Linked DNA regions of Homo sapiens: region 2 is linked to region 1. A link means that fine-mapping ties the variant in region 1 to the expression of a gene that starts in the linked region. Tissue or cell type: spleen. Region 1 holds a variant in brackets; the other region holds the start of a gene. All regions are shown on one strand. Distances are from middle to middle.

Region 1 (2,762 bases):
CCCATGTATCAAGTGAGAATAGAGTGTGAGACTTTAAAAAATTAATGGATTATTTTTTAAGAACAGTTTCAGGTTTAGAGAAAAAACAGAGCAGATTAGCTGGGCATGGTGGTATGCACCTGTAGTCCCAGCTTATTCATATGCTTATTTGCCATCTGCGTATCTTTTTGTGAGGTGTCTGTTCAGACCTCTTGCCCACTTTTCAATCGGGTTGTTTTCTTATTGTTGAGTCTTAACAGATTAGCTTAATCAGATTGGCTTCGGGAGGCTAAGGCGAGAGGATCGCTTGAGCGCGGGAGGCGGAGGTTGCAGTGAGTTGAGATCACACCACTGCACTCTAGCCTAGGTGACAGAGAGAGACCCTGTCTCAGAAAGAAAAAAAAAGAAAGAGCAGAAAGTAGAGAGTTCCCATATACCCTCTGCCTCCTACACTTCTCCCCTCCCCACACTTTCCCGTTATTAACATCTTGCATTAGTGTGGTACATTTGTTACAAGTGATGAACCAATATTGATATTGTAGGGGAGGGCAAATCTGTTTTCCTTCTACCCTTCTAAGTTCATGGCTGAGAACCCTATAACAGAAGACAGATTAATAAGAGAAAAGTGCATAAACATATTTAAGTTTTATGTGACATGGAAGCCTTTATAAGGAAATGAAGACTCCAAGAAGCAGTTACAGTTTGATGTAGGTTTGATAAAGGGTGGACAGTTGTGGAGGATATGATAGAGCAAAGAGTTTGAAGTAAGTGTAGTCCGCTGGCAGAAGCTTATCAAGGCCCGTTTGTTTAGTTAGATTCCTCTCTGTGTCCCTTTGTCTTCACAGATACCACCAGGTATAGGGAGGGCATCTCTCACCTGAGGGTCTTATGACCTGGCTTCAGGAGAAGGTCAGAAAACCCTTCCTGCACATGCTGCTTTTGCAAATTCCTTCACCTTAAAATATTCAATATGTCATTGTGTTAGTCTGTTCTTGCATTGCTCTAAAGAGATACCTGAGGTTGGGCAATCTATAAAGAAAAGAGTTTTAATTGGCTCATGGTTCCACAGACTGTATAGGAAGCATGATGCTGGCATCTGCTTGGCTTCTGGGGAGGCCTCAGGAAACTTACAATTATGGTGGAAGACAAAGGGGGAGCGAGACATCTCATGTGGCTAGAGCAGGGGAAGCAAGAGAGCGGGGAGGTGC[C/A]ACATATTTTTAAACAACCAGAATATCATGAGAATTCTATCATGCAAACAGCACTGTGGGGATGGTGCTAAACTATTAGAAACCACCCCCAAGATCCAATCACCTCCCACCAGGCTCCGCCTCCAACATTAGGAATTACAACTGGACATGAGTTTGGGTGAGGACACAAATCCAAACCATGTCAGTCGTGGTGCCATATTTTGTGGTAGCACGTCCTGAATCCCATCAATAAATTATTCTGAACTAAAGTTCCATAGTTTCCATTAGGGTTCACTTTTGGTGTACATCCTACCGGTTTTGCCAAATGAATAATGCCATGTAGAACCGTTACAATATTGTACAGAATAATTTCACTCCCCTAAAAATCCCCTGTGCTGAACCTATTCACACTTCCTCCCCTGAGTCCCTGGCAACCACTGTCTCTATAGTTTTAATCAGAATGTCACATAGTTGGAATCATACAGTATGTAGCCTCTCCAGATTGCCTTCTTTCACATAGTAACATTCAATTAAGGCTCTTCCATGCCTTTGCGTGGTTTGATAGCTCATTTCTTTTTATTGCTGAATAATAATCTATGGTATGGATGTGCCACAGTTTATCCATTCATTTATTGAGGGACATCTTGGTTGCTTCCAACTTTTGGCAGTTATGAATTATGAATAAAGCTGGTATAAACATTCATGTGCAGGTTTTTGCATGGACATAAATGTTCAATTTGGGTAAATATCTAGAAACGTGATTGCTGGATCTTGCGGTAAGCATATGCTTTGGCCAGGCGCGGTGGCTCATGACTGTGATCCCAGCACTTTGGGAGGCTGAGGTGGGATCACCTGAGATCAGCAGTTTAAGACCAGTCTGGCTAACACAGTGAAACCTCATCTCTACTAAAAAAAATACAAAAATTAGCTGGGCGTGGTGGCGTGTGCCTGTAATCCCAGCTACTCAGGAAGCTGAGGCAGGAGAATCGCTTGAACCTGGGAGGTGGAGGTTGCATTGAGCCAAGATGGCGCCACTGCACTCCAGCCTGGGCAATAGAGTGAGACTCTGTGTCAAAAAAAAAAAAAAAGAAAAAAAAATGGCCAGGCGCAGTGGCTCACACCTGTAATCTCAGCACTTTGGGAGGCGGAGGCAGGTGTATTATTTGAAGTCAGGAGTTTAACACCAGCCCGACCAACATGGTGAAACCCTGTCTCTACTAAAAATACAAAAATTAGCTGGGCGTGGTGGTCATGCCGGTAATCCCAGCAACTTGGGAGGCTGAGGCAGGAGAATCGCTTGAACCCAGAGGCAGAGGCTGTAGTGAGCCAAGATCACACTTGCCGTTGCACTCCAGCCTGGGAGACAGAGTGAGACTCCGTCTAAAAAAAAAAAAAGCTTCATGACAAACTTCCAGACTTTCTTCCAAAGTGTCCGTATGAGTTTTCATTCCCACGAGTAATGAATGAGAGTTCCTGTTACTTCACATCCTTGCCAATGTTTGGTGGTGTCAGTGTTTCGGATTTTAGCAATTTTGGCAAATATGTAGTGGTATCTCACTGTTGTTTTAATTTGCAATTCCCTAATGACATATGATG
Region 2 (2,500 bases), 360 kb before region 1:
GGCGCCTGTAGTCCTAGCTACTCAGCAGGCTGCGGCAGGAGAATCACTTGAACCCAGGAGGCGGAGGCTGCAGTGAGCTGAGATCGCGCCACTGCACTCCAGCCTGGGTGACAGCGCGAGACTCCGTCAAAAAAAAAAAAAAAAAAAATCCTCTAATGGCATCCCCTAGGTAATAAAAACCCGGCTATAGAAGATATCCTACCCGATTCAAGCCTCCCAATCTCCTACTTGCCCGGCTTGCTCTTCTTCAAGAGCCTCCTTGCAAGTCCCCCAATAACCCAGATACCTTCCCTTAGGGTCCAGGCATTGGGTGTCCCTTTTGCCTGGAATTCTTATACTCAGACATCTCTACGGCTAATTTCCTCACCTCCAAATTTCTGCTTAAATGTCAAGTTTAACTGACCTGACAATCCTACACAGAACTGCTTTAGCCCTTCAGCCCTAGGACATTCCTATTTCCTTCTCCCACAGCACTTATCACTAATATACTATGAAATTCGCTTTTTTTTTTTTTCACCACAGCACTTATACTAATATACTATGAACTTTTTTTTTTCCACCACAGCACTTATCACTAATATACTATGAACTTCTCTTTTTTTTTCATTTTGAGACGGAGTCTCGCTATGTCGCCAGGCTGGAGTGCAGTGCGGCAGGATCTCGGCTCACTGCAACCTCCGCCTCCGCCTCCCGGGTTCAAGTGATTGTCGTGTCTCAGCCTCCCGAGTAGGTGGGACTACAGGCGCGCGCTACCATGCACGACTAATTTTTGTATTTTTAGTAGAGACGGGGTTTCGCCGTGTTGGCCAGGCTGGTCTCGAACTCCTGACTTCAGGTGATCCGCCCGCCTCGGCCTCCCGAAGTGCTGGGAGGCCGCCGTGCAGGGTCCTTCTTTTACTCTGACGTTGCAACAACAGCCTCGCCGCCCACTGTTCACTCGCAGTATCCCAAGAACTAAACCAGTAGCAACACAGAACTCAGCAAGCATTCGAATAAGTGAATGAAAGAATTAATGACGTTACTCCATACTTGGGCTTCACCACTTCGTCTAGCACAGCCGTTGTTAAAACAGGAAAAATGCAATCGCAGATGCCAGCAGAGGTCTGTTGGTTCAAAATTATAGTTTCTTTGGGCCAGCGGAAGTTGGGCGCGGGACCCAAGAGAGAGAACGCCCCTTACCGCCTCACCTCCTTCCTCCCCTCATCTTCCTATCTCAAACCAAAACGACAATGCAATTTATCCCCAACCGGAAATTTGACAGTGAAAGGGAGCTCTACTAATAATTGCACTGGGACAAGAAGTGTAAGGCGAAACTACCTGGGCAACCTCAAGCAATGCTTTACACTCGGCTGCCAAACGGAAAGGACCACTTCCGCCCAGCTCTCCCGCTACGGGGAGCCAAGTGCCACAGCATCCGGAGCGCCGACGCGGGACCGGAAGTGACGCAGAGAAGTTTCCGGGACTGGTGAGTAGTGGGCGATTTAAAAACCCGCGAGTGTAGTTGTGACCTTCGCGGTAGGTGCCGGTTGGGGCCGGCTGTGATTGTTATCTTGGTGCTGCAGAGGACAGCAGAAGAGGAGATTGGGTCAGAAAACTGCCCTGCCGCACCAGAGCACAGCGCACTAGTGGGACAGGGGTCCTGACTCAGACTTAACTGGCTGTGTCTCGTGGTTTTTCACTGTCCTGGAAAAGGCCTGAAGTGGCACTGAAATGAGGCATAGATGAGGTAACGTCGAGGGAGCGGTTTGCAGGTTGCAAAGGGGCCCTACTGATGCTGCTTAATAGTAAACAGTGCTTACTCTAGGACGGGAGTTGTTTCCAGCTTTACGTGTAAATCTCGCGATATTGTGGCCTGGGCACTATTTCCATTAAGGAGGAAACTGCACAGGATAAGTCATTTACCTGCTGTTGCACAGCTCTGGCTCTAGGATTCAGGCTGGCTTCAGAGTCGGTGCTCTTAACCGCCATACTATGTTGCCTTCTGTTGTCGTTGTTGACTGTGGCCATGTAGCTTCGCAGTTTCCTCATCTGTAACAGTAAATAACTCAAAACCTGCATGATGGCCCACTAGGGTTTCACTTTCGAGCTTGCCAGATGTAGAAAATGCTGGAGAATGGAGTACTATGAGGACCATTAGAAGATCTTTCAAGGCCGGACGCAGTGGCTCACCCCTGTAATCCCGGTACTCTTGGAGGCCGAGGCAGGTGGATCACTTGAGCGCAGGAGTTTGAGACCAGCCTGGGCAACATGGCGAATCCCCATCTCTACTAAAAATACAAAAATTAGCCAGGTGTGGTGTTTAGCGCCTGTAGTCCCAGCTGCTCAGGAGGCTGAGGTGGGAGGATCTGCTTGAGCTCAGGAAGTCGAGGCTGCAGTGAGCTGAGATCACGCCACTGCACTCCAGCCTAGGCGCCTAGTGAAACCCTGTGTCAAAAAGAAAAAAACAAAAACAAACTTCCAAGACCTCGAGTGGTTTTTGGAGACCCTGTATCACTTCAAA

What was found. PIP is the estimated chance that this variant, and not a neighbour inherited with it, causes the effect.
Region 2: it holds the start of PPIL3, and the variant in region 1 is fine-mapped to the expression of PPIL3 in spleen (GTEx, PIP 0.94).

What each region holds. Positions count from the first base shown.
Region 1 is chr2:201,249,356-201,252,117 of GRCh38, forward strand. It overlaps a transcript of CASP8 not described here. Among named protein-coding and RNA genes, the nearest start is that of CASP8, 9.8 kb to the right of the region's middle. The variant C/A (reference allele first, on the strand shown) is at 1,188.
Region 2 is chr2:200,887,927-200,890,426 of GRCh38, forward strand. PPIL3 (peptidylprolyl isomerase like 3) reads right to left here and starts at 1,151. Exons shown (of 7, transcript NM_130906.3): 1 at 1,030-1,151. NIF3L1 (NGG1 interacting factor 3 like 1) reads left to right here and starts at 1,445. Exons shown (of 7, transcript NM_001369441.2): 1 at 1,445-1,726. RefSeq lists enhancers at 231-975, 669-718, 787-1,986, 839-1,088, 976-1,720 and 1 more.